Regions from separate parts of the Homo sapiens genome. Here region 1 is linked to region 2. The links come from fine-mapping of genetic effects on gene expression. Tissue or cell type: whole blood. Region 2 holds a variant in brackets; the other region holds the start of a gene. All regions are shown on one strand. Distances are between the middles of the regions.

Evidence for each region. PIP is the estimated chance that this variant, and not a neighbour inherited with it, causes the effect.
Region 1: it holds the start of RYBP, and the variant in region 2 is fine-mapped to the expression of RYBP in whole blood (TOPMed, PIP above 0.99).

Annotation. Positions count from the first base shown.
Region 1 is chr3:72,442,757-72,450,861 of GRCh38, reverse strand. It overlaps RYBP (RING1 and YY1 binding protein), which reads left to right and starts at 4,239. Exons shown (of 4, transcript NM_012234.7): 1 at 4,239-4,366. The coding sequence starts at 4,239. RefSeq lists silencers at 3,393-3,802, 3,863-3,922.
Region 2 is chr3:72,554,874-72,562,978 of GRCh38, reverse strand. LOC124909394 (a long non-coding RNA gene) reads left to right here and starts at 1,160. Exons shown (of 2, transcript XR_007095960.1): 1 at 1,160-1,242; 2 at 1,630-1,805. RefSeq lists a silencer at 7,518-7,708. The variant T/C (reference allele first, on the strand shown) is at 3,406.

The DNA of each region.
Region 1 (8,105 bases), 110 kb after region 2:
AGAAAAATTAGCTGGGTGTGGTATTACATGCCTGTAGTCTCAGCTACCCAGGAGGCTGAGGTGGAAGGATTGTCTGAGTTCAGGAGGTTGAGGCTATAGTGAGCCGTGCTGTGATCCTGCCACTGCACTCCAGCCTGGGTAACAGAGCAAGACTCTGTCTCCAAAAAAAAAAAAAAAAAAAAAAAGAAAAGGAAAGGAAAAGAAACAAAACACATGCAGATGTAGATTGCGTGACCAGGGAAAATCTCAGTGAGGAATTGACTTTTGCGTAAAGACCTGAAGGAATTGAGGCAGCTGACAATGAATGTGGGTATCTGCGCAAAGAGCATTCCAAGCCAAGGAAGCAGTAAGTGTGAAGGCTCTGAGGCCCTGAAGGTAGGGAACTGTTTTAGGAACAGCCAGGAAGCCGGTGTGAGTGAAGCGAATGAGGGGAAGGAAGTCAAAATGTAGACTTCGAATGTGTCTTATGTATCTGTGGAAACATTTATACTGGACATTTCTTGGCCAGTGCTTCTAACCAGCATCTACACTAAAACCACGGGTTTCAAACAATTTTTTTTTTCTCTTTGAAGCAGAGTCTCACTCTGTTGCCCAGGCGGGAGTGCAGTGGTGTGATCTCATCTCACTACAACCTCCGCCTACTGTGCTCAAGTGATCTTCACACCTCAGCCTCCCAAGTAGCTGAGACTACAGGAGTGCACCACCATGCCCGGCTAATTTTTGTATTTTTAGTAGAGACAGGGCTTCACCATGTTGGCCAGGCTGGTCTCAAACTCTTGGCCTCAAGTGAAACATTTGCCTCGGCCTCTCAATCAAATAATTTTTAAAGCAGTAGAACCCTTTTGTCAAATGAAATATGAAATGGAGGTTCAAGGGAGGAAACAGAGGAGCAGGGACTGGCTGGCAACTCTCACTGTTACTCTCACCCCATACTGGTCCAAGATGACATCTTAGAGGAAAATTAGTTCCCCACCCAGCTCAGCCTCTAAACCCCACTCCAGAATCACAGTACGCTCTGCCTAGAGCCACAGCACTCTGGAGCACACTGTACCAGAAATAGTCCCATTTGACTCATACAACTACAAGGAGACTTTCAATAGATATTTGCCTCCAACATCTGAATGAAATTAGAGCCTCTAAAGTTACAACCACATGGTGATCCTTGGGTCTGATAAGTTCCTAGAGATAGTTCTCTACTCTGAAATTGTTTTTCTTAAACACATTTTTTTGATTTTTTGGTTTTTTTTTTTTTAGACGGAGTCCTGCTCTGTCGCCCAGGCTGGAGTGCAATGGTGCAATCTTGGCTCACTGCAACCTCCGTCTCCCTGGTTCCAACAATTCTCCTGCCTCAGCCTACCGAGTAGCTGGGATTACAGGCGCCCATCACCACGCCCGGCTATTTTTTTTTTATTTTTAGTAGAGACAGGGTTTCACCATGTTGGCCAGGCTGGTCTCGAACTCCTGACCTCAGGTGATCCACCCACTCGGCCTCCCAAACTGCTGGGATTACAGGTGTGAGCCACCGTGCCTGGCCCTTCTTAAACACATTTTTAAAAACTTTTTCTTTTTTGAAAAGATAACACAAGACAAAGATACAAAACGACATACTAAAACAGTCAACCTCCTATGGATAAATTACAGTGTATTTGCAATGGAATTCTACACACTTAAGCAAACAAAAATGAACTATTGATGTAGGCAACAACGTGGATGGATATCACAAATATGCTGAGCGAAAGGTGCCAGCCAGACACAAGAGTACAGACCATATGACCCCTGCATATGACCTTAAAGAACAGGCAAAACTAATCTTTGGTGACAGAAGTCGGAATTGTGGTTACCTAAGTGAGGGATGACTCATTGGGAGGATAAAATGTTTTATTGTTCTAATGGTGGAAAGAGGGGTGTAGATGTATGCACTAAGCTGCAGTGTGAAAATTTGTGTATTTTATTCTATGTATAGAATAATAACAAAGTCTCCTTTCCACTACTATGGCTCCCAGCTACCTCCCCGGAGGCCACTCTTCCAGTGAGGATTTCTTAGTGCCCCGTTTCTGTCACGACCTTCATGCCAGGGGCAGAGTCCTGGGAGCATGCCAGGGAGACACCAGAGGCCAAGGCTGCTCCATGGCGCAGCTGCACTGGGCCATGGCTTGTGTACGTACCCTTTGGCTTTCTACGGCCCTTTTACCCCTAGAACGCTATCCCTCTCTCTTCCTCTTCCTTCTTTCATCCCTCCCCTAAGGAGGCAGCTGTGGCATTGAGGCCTTGAGAGGTTGCTGACCCTTGCTAAACAGTGTTGCTTCTCCTGGCCCTCCTGGGTGCGCCTGCCTGGAGAGGACACTGCGTGCTGATCAAACTTATTGTTGACACATTCATTCTCTCTTTTATTCTCTCCCTTCTGATCCCTGGACTGATCTCTAGGAATTTCTGCTCCCTGGGTGCTCAGTCTCAGTGAGCTTCCCTGGTGGCAAGCCCTGATATGCTTCCCTTCCATGGGGCAGTCCTGATAACAACCTATTTTATATTTGCATATAAACCTGGCTGAGGGTCTGTCTTAACTCCAATCCCCCCACCCCCGGGCCCCAACTCCTAGCAGCATTCTAAGACTCCGTCCCTCCCCTAACCTGGGGCTTCAGCACAGCCGCGTCTGTGTCTTTTATCATCTGGGGTCGTCCTCCTACCAGATCTCCCTGCCTGAGGACAGAGGGTCCTGAGTCACGTTCAAGTCAATTTGGCAAGCGTTTTTGGAGCAGGGCAGAAAGTGAAGGGCACTACCCTGTTCCTCGACTTCAAAAATCGAACGCGGGGGAAATGGTGCACAATTCAGGCCCAGTTATAATAGCTCCTAATACCCAATATCTTGTTTTGGTCCTTCGTGAATACCAGGCATCCATCAGCGAACCTTCCATGCCTGATTTCTCCGAATATTCAAAACAACCCTGGGAGGATGAGCCCCATTTTGGAGATGAAGGAGCTGAGGCACGAGGTTTTAATGCGGGCATGTGGTCGCCAGAATTTGAATAGCAACTTCCCTAAGGAAACGCCCTATTTAGACTCTAGGGGAGAGGAGGATCCCAGGAGGAGTCCGCCAGCAGAAGCTCAGAGTCTGGCCTGGGGGCATTTAGTTATGCCACGCCCTTTCTCTACTGTTCCCTCCCGCGACAGGGGCCTGACAGGGAGTGGGGCTTCGGGCCAGCGTCTCGGCCGGACGCAGGGACTTCAGAAGAGGCAAATACAAAGCTCCGCATGGCAGAGGAACAGAGGGGCGCGGGGGAACGCGGTCCAAAGGTGGACCTTGTCGGCCCCTGGGCACTGCAAGCCTCGAGGCGCTGCGAGCGGTGAGGCTGTTGCAAGCTCCCGCGGCGCGCGCAAACTGCGTGGAACTACTTCCCCGGGGCGGCTTCGGGGCCGGGGTCCCGGCAACAGCCTCACGGGGCGCCGTGCGGGGCCCGAAGCCAGTTGCCAGCTCCCGGGCGCGGCCACGTGCGCCCCGCCGGGCTTGCACGCTCCGCCGCGCCGGGCCGCGGGGCCACCGACAGGCACGCGCGCCCCCAGCGCGCACACACTCCCGGGCACGCACACCGACCGCCCGGCCCACGTCCGCCACGCCCCGCCTTCCCCCGCGCCCCGCCTCCGCCCTCGCGGCGCCGGCCGCCGCCCTCCCATTGGCCGCACGGCGCGTGACGCGCGGCGCCAGGCCCCGCCCCTCGTCAGTCACTCGGCGGAGGCGGCGCTGGCGGGGACTAGTCTCGTCCGGAGACTGTGATGGATTTAACCAGGTGGGGAGGGAGGGAGGGCGCGAGCTTGGGAGTGGAGAGGGAAGGAGCCGGCCCACTCCCCGTCGCCGGCCTCGGGCTGCCCCTGCGCGCCCCCTCCAGATCCGGCCCGCGGCTCCCCTCCCGGCCCCCCCAGCCCCACGCTCAAGTCCACAAGTCCGCCCGCTTCCTGCGCCCGCCGCGGCCCTTCCCGGGGCGCCGCCGCCACCGCCTGGTGTGCGAGGCTATCCGGCCCGGGCCCGGGGCTTGCAGGGTGCCAGTGGGGGCGCCCGGTTCCCTTCCTCGCTCTCTCTTCCAGTCCCCGGAAAGGGTGGGTGGGTGGTCTCCCGAGCGAAGTTTCCAGCACTGGATTCCTGCGAAATTACGACGGCTCACCCGCGTCTGTGTTTTGCTGTCTCTCCCCCGTTTTCCTGCTCCCTGCCTCTTCCCTCCCTTTTCCCCCACTCTCCACTCCTCGGAAGGCCAAAAAGACAAGCGAAACCTGCCGCAGACGAAGGGTTTTGGGATTGTAGCGTCTGCACCTTCAGAAACAGTGCTGAAGCCTTTAAATGCAGCATCTGCGATGTGAGGAAAGGCACCTCCACCAGGTACTTGAAGATCTGTGTTACCTTTTGTTAAAGGACTTTTTTTTTTTTTTTTTAAGTGAGAGGGTAGTGAGCCTTACTTTCTGCCCTTTTTCCAACTTGTTGATTACGGCTTTTTTTGTATTTGCGGGTGGGTTGTGTGTGTTTTTGGGTTGAGTGTATTAAGTGTTGGGTGAAAAGCCTTGTGTTCGCTAAATGATTTATGGGAGGGAATTTTTCCAGGTTTTCATTTTATTTCAAACGGACACTGGATTTATTTGACACTTGTGTCTATTGGCTTATTGGTATTGGCTGGGGAAGAGAGGAAGCAGTACTATCGCTATGGATTGTAGGACATAGATGTTTTATATTTTTGCCATGTGTAGAATGGTTTTAATTTGCCTGTCCCGAGTTACTTTTCTCTTGTCTGAGAAATTTAGTGGGGGTAGTAAGGCTGGCTGTGCTTTTCCTGTCTTGAGCTGCAAATGTCTGTTACTTTCTTGCACTTGAAAATAAATGTCGGTATTTGATAAAGTAAGTGCATTTTGTGGGAGACTGAGCTGTCAGTTTTTTTTTTCTTTGACTAGCTTATGTGGGGTGGTGATGGGGGACGATTTTGTAAAATGGTGAAATGAGCAGTGACTGTGGAAGTTTGTGTTTAAAGCTCTGTGATGATGAAAAGAATGTTGAAAGAATTCCTTTTCATTTTGATGAAGGTCGTAAACTGCATGTGATGTTAAAACGAGTTAACTACTTTAGATTTAACATTCATAAATACTTGGATAAAATGTCAAGACTCATGTAGTCTTTTGGTCATCTTTTAATTTATGTCTGAATTTGTTTCATTGGCGTTAGAGTTTGAAGTTAAACTGTTCTTGGTGTCATTTAATGAACAGGCATTGGGTGTGTGTGTGAGACAAGAATGAGTTTTTGGTGGATCCTTTAGAACATTACAGTTGATTGCCAAAAGTCTCATTTTATCAGGTACTTATTTTTGAATTGGTGACATTTCAGTGTGACTGTGTAGTAGTACTTCACAGTTCCAACTGGATATTGTTCTTTGATTAGATGAATATGTCATGTTAAGGTTTCATTGGTTTATTTATACTTGGGATTAAATAGGATTATTGGGCAACCTAAAATAATCTAACTCTGAGATTAATTGGCCTAATTATTGTTTCTGTGAATTGCACTCTTTAAATGATGATACCTTTGAATAAAAATAATCAAAAACTAAAAATATTACTCCATACGTTGTTTTAAGAAATTTTTGTCGGTGTTTTGTATTATCATGGAATATATCTAAAGTAAAAAACACGCATCAGTAGTTTCATAGATTTTGTTTTGCTGTCTAAAATAGGGAATTCCATCAAATGGCATGAAAGTTTTTAGAAATGTATTTGTTATTTAAAGCAGTAGTGATTGTATATTATTTATGAGTAATGTTTTTTACATGTAGAAGCCCTCAGAGGCCAAACCTCTTTATTGTGGTTTTGCTTTGAGTGTTACCGTAGATGGTGTTCAAGTAAATGATTAGGAAACTCCTAAGAACTTGAGAACATTACTGGTGAAGAGAAACGTAAACCAAATTCAAAAGTTTATGTCTGATTTATCGCTGGGAATGATTATCTCATAATGAAGTGCATTTCAGCTTTTAACATGTATTTTAAAAAACCTTACTCATCAATTTTTCGGAAGCACATGGAAGGTGTTGACTTTTAAAAAAGGTATGTATGTATGTTTAAAGTTTTTTCAGAGCCGCAGATGACTGTTGAAACTTAGTTAAAACTACTGAATTATTTACAGTGAAAATATTTTAGAGTCTATTCAGGAACAGGGAAAGGCGTCTACTTTAAGGGTCTTCGAGTAATTTTCTGATGTCATTTAATAGAATTTGAATACAGATTTAACAGGTGTGAGGACTGAAAACTGTGTGCATTCATGACACTCTTAGCTGGCCACAGTTGGTTTCATTTTGGTTATTGTCAATATTTTGGTGTTTTAGATCTATTCAGAAGTCATCGTTGGTTGGAATGCAAATAACGTTTTGGTTTTCCTACATTATGAACAGGTTTTATGTGGAGAAGTGAGTTTGACAGGTTTTCATCCTATCCTGTCTTGTGTGTTAACTGTTGGTTAATCCCTTTGTGATACTGGTTACTGCCATGTTTTTTTCTTGGCCCTCTTGTATTTTTTTTGTACCTCAAAAGTTTGAGTATGAACTTGACATTTTCTATCTTGTGTAGTTTTAATCAGACTTGGTATAGATTGATGGCAGTAGAAAACTTGTGTTTTGGATGCTGGGTAATAGGCAATATTTGTGATTTTTAGAATAATTTGTTTCGTGGCACAGAAATTGTATTTTATTGCTCTGAGCTGGTGTTATGTATTTTAACAATTCTAGCTAGTTGGCTAGCCGGTGGTTATTTTGCAGTTTTTGATCATTCTCATCACTGTCACCTTCATCTACCAGTCAACCAAGGAAACCACCTATGACTTAGTGGTAGGCCAGTATGATAGAGAACTATATTTGCCCTTTGAGGGTAGAATTGATATTGCTGATGTGATTGGGAAAATACTGCCATTCGTCTGAAGAACACTTATTAAATTCGTAGGATATGAAAGATGCTGCTGAAGGGATTGGAGAGAGGAGAGGGGAGTGTTAAAATGTTGATAAGCCGTGTATGGGAATGACCATAATTCCAATTATAAAGGCTGTACGGAAGCAGGGGTCTGGCTTAGGGAATCAGTTAGAAGGATTCCTTCTTCTCCACTTCTTTTGGACAAGGAGAATTAAAAAATCACCTGTCACCTTTTCACTATTACCATGTACGTCAGATATTTTTAGTTCTGCAGGTGGAATTGTTAAGGTGATTGAGAATGAGGTCTTTTTTTTCTTTTTGGAGCAGCAATAGAGCAGAATGAAAGGTGAGATGGTCTTAAGGAATCTGTTAAGGGAAGAAGGTGGCCTAGGCTGTGTGGAGGTTCAGGGGCAGCAGGAGAGATCTATATTTTAGATGTATTATCAGTATGTGTTGGGTGTCTTTGGTTTTTTGATAAACTTGTTTTTCTAACTAGACTGTCCACTCTTTGTGCCTTTTCTGGTTATATATATATCCTTTTGTTTGGAGACAGGGTCTTTCTCTGTCACCCAGGCTGGAGTGCAGTGGCATGCTCATGGCTCACTACAGCCTCAACCTCCGTGGCTCAAGCGATTCTTCCACCTGAACCTCCTGAGTAGCTGGGACTACGGGTGTGCACCATCACATCCGGCAAAGTTTTGTAATTTTTGTAGAGACAAGGTTTCGCCCTGTTGACCAGGCTGGTCTTGAACTCCTAACCTCAAGTGATCTTTCTGCCTTGCAGGAGTGAGTGATAATTTACTTATAACACCCATTGTAAGTCTGCAAATCAGTGATTTCTAGTCATTTTAAAGAGTTGTGCAGCCATCACGGCAACCCAGTTTTAGAACATTTCCATCATGTCAAATGGTTTCGTTATATCCGTTCTGTAAGTCTAACAGAACAGAATGGAGAAGTCATGGGCAACAGGTTGCTTCCCTACCATGCTGATGTACCCTGAGCCTTTCAAGGTAGAAAATAAAAGTGCATGTTAGAATGTGTGTGTAAGGTGGCAAGTGGCTGGGGGAGAAACACTATCCCTTTCTTAAGTGGTAAAGTAGTATTTCCCATCCTGCTTTGCCAGTCTCAAGAAAGAGGATACCGGCTTTTAAAAGTAGAAGAAAAAAACTACAAATGCATGA
Region 2 (8,105 bases):
CTCCTGACCTCGTGATCCGCCCGCCTTGGGCTCCCAAAGTGCTGGGATTACAGGCGTGAGCCATCGCGCCCAGCCCCCTGTTACCTTTTTTAAAGGTCCTGGTTTGGTATGGTCCACACTCCATTTCTGGAGATTTCTTTTGACTCCTTCTTCAGATGTGACTGAGCCCCTCTGAGTCCTACCTGCTCCTCTTGCAAGTTTGGGAACCTGGCACTGAAAGATGCGGATTCAGTGTTTAGAAGTCACAGAAAATTAGGACAGGAAGGGATCGTTTGAAGTCATCTGATCCAACTCCTCATTTCAATTTTTTTATAGAGGTGCTTCCCGTCTGGACTCCAAATCCTGTGGTCTTTCTCTGACCCAGTGGGAGGCTCTAGAGTGTAAGGTTTAGGAGGCCAGTTTTGACATAGTGCTGCCACTTAACTGCTGGGAAAGTTACTTAGCTGGTCTGAGGCTCAGTTTCCTCATAAGTAAAATGGAAATGATGACAGTAGTGTGTACTTTATAAAGTTTCATGGGAATTAAATCTGTATTAGCTTACTATTCCTGCTGTAACAAATTTTGTGGCTTAACACAACACAAATTTATTCTCTTATAGTCCTAGAGGTCTGAAGTATGAGATCAGTGTATTGGCAGGGCTGGTACCTTCTGGAGGCTTCTGAGGAGAATCCATTTCCCTGCCTTTCATAGCTTCCAAAGGCTGCCTGCATTCCTTGGCTTGTGGCCCCTTCCTCCATCTTCACAGCACATCACTTCATCCTGTTTCCATAGTCACATCTCCTTTCTTCGTCTTTGATCCTCCTGCCTCCCTGTTATAAGGAGCCTTGTGATTACATTGGTCTCACCTGGATAATCCAGAATAATCTCTCCATTTAAAGAGCCTTAACTCAATCACATCTTCAAAATTCCCTTTGCTATGTAAGAAAACATATTCACAGGTTCTGGGTATTGAAATGTGCACATCTTTTTGGGGCGGGGGCAGAGGTTGCTTTATTCTGTTTATGATAAAGTAACAACTAATGTAAAAGCATTAATTGCATAGCACCAGGTATGGAATAAGCATTCAACAAATGGCATTAGTATCATTTAGGGACCACCTACTAGTGCCCATAATCAAAATAGATATAGTTTTTGCCTTTGTGTCTTTGTGTCTTATCCAGTGTCCATAAGCCAAGGAATGCAGGCAGCCTTTGGAAGCTGTGAAAGGCAGGGAAATGGATTCTCTCCAGAAGCCTCCAGAAGGTACCAGCCCTGCCAATACCCTCATCTCATTTGATACTAATGCCATTTGTTGAATGCTTATTACATACCTGGTGCTACGCAATTAATGCTTTTACATTAATACTTTATCGTAAACAGAATAAAGCAACCTCTGCCCCCGCCCCAGGTGATTCTATCAGCCAGCCTTTCCTGTGTAATCAACTACCCTAAAGCTTACTAACGCAAAACAACTACCATTTATTTAGCTCTCAGTTTAGTAAGTCATCAGTTTCAGTTCTTCTGGTCTGGTCTGGGTTTAGCTAGTTTCCACTGGGCTCCCCCATGGTCACTGGGGCTGCTGGTTTATAATGGTCTTGGCTGGAATGAATGGGGCCTCTCTCCAAGTGTTTTTTTTTTTTCACCCAACAGGCTAGCCCAGGCTTGTTTGCATGTTGGTGGAAAGGAGCAACAAGAATAGTGAGACCTCTTAAGTCCTAGGCTTCGAACTGACACGTTGTCACATCCGCCACTTCTACGGATCAACAAAAATCACAAGGTCAGCCCTGATTCAAGGGCTTAGAAAATAAACTTAATCTCTGATGAGAGAAGTAGTATTGTGTCCCTTTTTACAATCTACCACAATGACATTGCAGGGAAGAGAAAGGAAGCATTGAAGTTGCATGCCAGTAGAATAGTTACTAGGGAAGAATTTCCCTCTGGAAAGTTCCCCAGGAAGGGAGGCAACAAGGCTTCAACAACCTGTTTAGGAGTGGCCCTGGGGTGGCTAATTATTCTTGTGCTCTCTGTGAAGGACAACACATTAGCATATTTCTTTCTCAGTGTGCTAAAATGCCAGGCCCCAAGATCTCTATTATAAATGACACAATTAAGTCCTTGGCAAGAAAAAGTCAAGTTCACCAGCCTCTCTTCTGTTTTTCAGAAAGCTAGTAGGACAAGCAGAGTTACTACACCAAAGTCCACACGAGTGACAAAAACACAGATTTTGAGAAATTGAGAGAAGTCATTGGAACATTAAATTCCTTTAAAACAAAGGCTTCTATTTGTCATTAGCAAATGTAGTGAAAAAAAGCAGGATGTAAAACAGTTGATCCAGCCTTATCCTAATTCTTTTAAGAGAAAAATATTTACTTATATGTAGGCCTAGAAAAATGATTGGAAAGACATATATGTATGTGTGTGTATATATATATATTTATATATATCTCACAATATTAACAGCAGTTAGATATCTTTGCTGGGATTAGAGATGACTTTTTTCTTTCTACTTCTCCGAAATTTCCTAATTTCTATAATAAACCTGAATTACCTTAGTAATCAGGAAAAAATTTAATTAAAAAAAAAACCCACAATGGATTCTTTTTTTTTTTTTTTTTTTTTTGAGACGGAGTCTTGCTCTATTGCTCAGACTGAAGTGCAGTGGCTCTATCTGAGCTCACTGCAACCTCCGCCCCCCGGGTTCAAGCGATTCTCCTGCCTAAGCCTCTCAAGTAGCTGGCTGGGATTACAGACGCATGCCACCATGCCTGGCTAATTTTTGTATTTTTAGTAGAGATGGGATTTCACCATGTTGGCCAGGTTGGTTTTGAACTCCTGACCTCAAGTGATCTGTCTGCCTTGGCCTCCCAAAGTGCCAGGATTACAGGCGTGAGCCACCGCGCCCAGGCCACAATGGATTCTAATTGCTTCAACATTTTAAAAATGAAGCCCTAAGTTATTTGATTATGTTGTTAATGGTATTTGCTGGAATTGGGACTTTCATATTTTTCCCTTTAAAATTATCCTGGGGCACTAAGTTACACATGTAGGTCTTGAACTCCTAATTTCAAGTTTATAAAATGTATTAATTAGTGCAAGTGCCTTTCATTTGTCCAATCTCTCAATTCTCTAGATGCTGGGAGCTCAAAACTCTTTAGCAAGTTAGGTACCCAGAGGCCATTCCACTGACTTTTTTTGAACAAATTACTCTACAGAGCTGTGATTTAATATCTTGCTCTCAGCTTTTATCAGGGGTCGATGCTGATATACCGAACAGGCCTGCAAAGAACATTTCTGCATCTTTTATAGAACTACTGCCAAAGGCCTTTTCTTTTATTTGGTTCACACTCCTTTCTACAGAGATCCCCTCAGTCAATTCCCCTTGTGTACCTTATGAGGAAGTTTGGTTTCTATAGTGCACTGGTGTGG[T/C]TCGTGTTAGGGAACCTTGAGATGAGGTCATTTATCTTGTTTTCCTTTTGCCTTTGCTGCTGGGAAGCTTAGAATCAAATTTTGTGCTCAATGAAGGCAACTATCCTTAACCAAGGTTTTCTATCTTGCTGAATAGTACCACCATCTATCCATCTCACTGAAGCTAGAAATTCCAGACAACATTCTAGAATTTTCTGCTGTCTTGCAGTTATTACCAGATGAAGGCATTCAGGAAATGTCACCCCAAAACATGCTGGTTTGGTATTCTGATTGCTTTGGCCTGAGGGCATTCAGGGAATAGCAATACAGGCAGAGCTTTCTCTGGGTTCCCTTTATCTGCCTAAAGTGGACTCCCCAAAAGAAACTCAGTGGTCATGAATCCCCTCCCTGGACTCTCATCAACCAGGGAAGATTGGCTCCTATCACAGGAGAGGGGACAGGAGGTCGATGCCATGCCAAGACAGACTTTGTCACAGGTTGTTGTGTATTCTTCTGAGGGCCCATTTATCTTTCCCCCAAATCATCCATTTTCCCTTAAGTTGCCAAAACCCCCTCCCCTGTCATACATGAAGACAGGATCTAAACTTCTAGATCTTACTGGATTTGGGGGTATTCACTTTTCTTTCATGTAATGCCTCTGTGCATGTAATCAATGTGTTCACCTTTTCTTCTTTAGTATTAGTCCATTCTCCCATTGCTATAAAGAAATACCTGAAGCAGCCTGGCCAACATGGTGAAATCCCATCTGTACTAAAAACACAAAAATTAGCCGGGCATGGTGGTGCATGTTTGTCATCCCAACTACTTAAGAGACTGAGATATGAGAATTGATTGAACCCAGGAGGCAGAGGTTGCAGTGAGCAGAGATTGCGCCACTGAATTCTAGCCTGGGCAACAGAGTGAGACCCTGCCACAAAAACAAAACAAAACAACAAAAAAACCCTGAGACTGGGTAATTTATAAAGAAAAGAGGTTTAATTGGCTCATGGCTCTTCAACTGTACAGGAAGCATTATGCTGATGTCTGCTTGGCTTCTGGGGTGGCCTCGGGAAACTTACAATCATGGCAGAAGGCAAAAGGGAGTCAGCAGGTCACATGGCGAAAACAGGAGCAAGAGAGAGAGGCAGGAGGTGCTACACACTTTTAAACAACCAGATTGCTTGTGAATTCACTCACCATCTCTATCTTGAGGACAGTACCAGGGGGATGGTACTAAACCATTCATGAGAAATCTGCCCTTATGATCCAATCACCTCCTACCAGGCTGTAGGATATAGTAAATTCCTCTTCCAAGTTTAGCCTGTTAACTTCCTTTAAAATTCAAGAGGGAGAAAAATTGTTAAGTACAATAAGTTCTGAGTTCTTCTTCAAAGAACCAATATGTCAGTACGTTCAGCTTCCCTGTTCTTTGTTCTCCATTTTAAAGCTAACTTCCTCATTCTTTACCTTCCTTGCCCGTAGTTTCAGTAAACAACCCCCTCCTAGCCTCTATCACCTGTTCTGTCCTTAGGCATCCTTAGTCGCCTGTTCTGTCCTTAGTAATCCTTAGTCACCTGCTCTGTAACTGTCCCTCCCGCCAAAACTACTCACCCCACCACTCTGGCTCATACCCTTGCTCTCTTTAAAATAGCCAATCAGAATTAGCTTAGACTGTGCTGTCCAACCCTAGCCAATAGGGGAAAGACACAACAGTAGGGGCTACCTGTGTCAGGAATAAGAACCCCTTCCCCTCCATCGTCCGGTGTGCTCTCGCCATTGCTCCATCTGTGAGACGCACCCTTCTATAGAAGTAAATTGCCTTGCTGAGAGAACTTTTGCCTGAGTGCTATTTTCACTTGGCAGCACCGAGCATTTACTTCCAACAAGGCCCCACCTCCAACATTGGAGATTACAATTCGACATGAGATTTGGACTGGGACACATCCAAACTATATCACCTGTTCATCTGCCTACTATCAGCTGATTTCATAGATGCAATTATCAAGTGCCTCATAGGGTAGAGGGAAAGTCTGCCCTCTCCTACACAATCCTGGAGCATTTTCCTTCTAAGGATCTCTCCAGTGTGTTCACCACTCTGTATTCCTATAGTCTCCTTTTAGTTCAGCCATCATTTTATGCTTGGATTGCTCAGTATTTCCTAAATCTCATCTTCCCCATTCCTACAAAAATCTTCTCCCCAAAATGTCCACCTTCCATACCAAGATGAGCAAGTGGTCTTTGTAACATGCCAATCTAATCTGGCAAGTTAAAAATCTTTCCTCACGCCTGTAATCCCAGCACTTTGGGAGGCTGAGGCGGGTGGATCATGAGGTCAGGAGATCAAGACCATCCTGGCTAACGTGGTGAAACCCCGTCTCTACTAAAAATACAAAAAATTAGCTGGGCGTGGCGATGGGCGCCTGTAGTCCCAGCTACTTGGGAGGCTGAAGCAGGAGAATGGCATGAACCCGGGAGGCGGAGCTTGCAGTGAGCTGAGGTCGCATGCCACTGCGCTCCAGCCTGGGTGACAGAGCGAGACTCCGTCTCAAAAAAAAAAAAATCTTTCCTTGTGAAGTGTTAACTCCTTCACTTCTCTCTCTTTCTTTCTTGTTTTTGAGACAGAATCTCTCTCTGTTGCCCAGGCTGGAGTGCAGTGGTGCGATCTTGGCTCACTGCAACTTTCTCCTCCTGGGTTCAAGCAATTCTCGTGCCTCAGCCTCCCAAGTAGCTGGAATTACAGTCATGCGCTACCACGCCTGACTAATTTTCATATTTTTAGTAGAGACGGGGTTTCACCATGTTGGCCAGGCTGGTCTCGAACTCCTGAGCTCAAGTGATCTACCCACCTTGGCCTCTCAAAGTGCTGGGATTACAGGCATGAACCACCGTGCCCGGCCTCCTTTGCTTCTCTTGCATAAGTCTCTATCTGCTTCTCTCAACTCTCATCTTCCAGCTTTTTACTCCAGCCATACAAGCTGTACTCTCCCTTGTCTCTGGGATTCCATTTTCTCAGTTGCTTTTCTCTCTTCTCCAGCTCCTCTTTGGCATGGTTCATACCATGGATTTTGCTTCAGAGTTTATGACTAAAGCCTTCCCTGGTTCCTTCTGTCATCTGAGACCGGTTAGGTATTCCTACTGTGAGTCCCCAAAGTTGTCCGCACTTCCCCTAACATAGCACTTGCCATGGTGAATTGTAGGGTAGGTTTCCTTTTCTGTCTCCTGCTCTAAACTGTAAGACCCAGGAGGGCAGGTTCTAGGTCTACCTCCTGTTATACCTTCAGGGCCAGCATAGCACCTGGTCCACAGTAGATGCTCACTAAGTATTTGTTAAAAGAATCAATCAATAAATAAACTAGTGTTTTGGCACTAAAAAAAAATCTTCCTCCCCCCACCTCCTCTCCTCTACCCTCATTATTTATCTATTGTTTGTCCCTATTGTTTTATATTTCTGCTTCCATAAACCAATCTGTAAATTTTTTTTCAAAAATGGCCACAATGTCCCACTCCTTGCAGCATGACCTTATCAAGAGGTGGCACCTATTTTCCCACCTCTTGAATCATTGCTGGCACCCCCATGGATAATACGCAGCTGATTGAGTGTGTGGCCGACTGCATCTGTCCTTGCATGTTTCTGCTCCCTCCCTTGGAACTGCACTGCTGCCATGTGAACAAGCCTGAGCTAGCCTGCTGGATGGTGAGAGACACAAGGCTGAAACTCCACCATCACCCCAGCCAACAGCCTGCTGGCCTCCAGATGTGTAAGTGAGGCCATCGAAGACTAGACAGCCCCAGACAACCTGTCACTGATGTTAGATGTCTGAGTGAGCCCAGTGGAGGTCAGCTCCGCTGGACCCAGATCAGTGGACATGCCTAATTTGAGAAATAGACTTGAGAGCAATAACAAAGGCTTGTCTTAAGCCCCCACATATCAAGGTGGTTTCTTATAGTACACCTTGCTATCTTTCCTGGAAACTGACCTCAAGTGACACCATCCAACACACAGGGAGACATTTTGAAGCCTCCAGAGGGTTAGGGTCAACCTGGTCCTCTTTTTCTCCAGCAACTTGGGGCACACACCCCAAATCTGTTTTTTGTTTGTTTGTTTTGTTGTTTTTTTTTTTTCTGAGACAAGGTCTCACTCTGTTGTCCATGCTGGAGTGCAGTGGTGAGATCATAGCTCACTGCAGCCTCAAACTACTGGGCTCAAGCTATCCTCCCACCTCAGCCTCCCGAGTAGATGGGACTACAGGTGCGTGCCACCGTACCTGGCTAACTTTTAAATTTGTTTTGTAGAGATAGGGGTCTTGCTATGTTGCCCACTCTGGTCTCAAACTCTTGGGCTCAGGTGATCCTCCCACCTCAGCCTCCCAAAGTGCTGGGATTACAAGTGTGAGCCACCGCAACCAGCCCCGAATCGTTTTTTAAAGACAGAATTATAAAGTGTGCCCCAATTTTTAGATGATCAAATTCCTCTTACATCCTTCTCATCTCTGCTTTACTTCTTCTAGCCCTTTCTTCTGCCCTAAAAAGCAAAATGAAACTGAATTTAATTTCTCTTCCCTGGTCTCAGAGTGTCTGCATTTTGCTTGCATTGGGATCCTTTCAACTAGCCCAGTGACTGGCTCTGAGTTCGGTGTGGCCTGCTGCTCATAACTGGCTCCTCCATGACCTCCGGCAAATGACTTAATCTCTCTGAGCCTCAACTTTTCTCATCTGTAAAA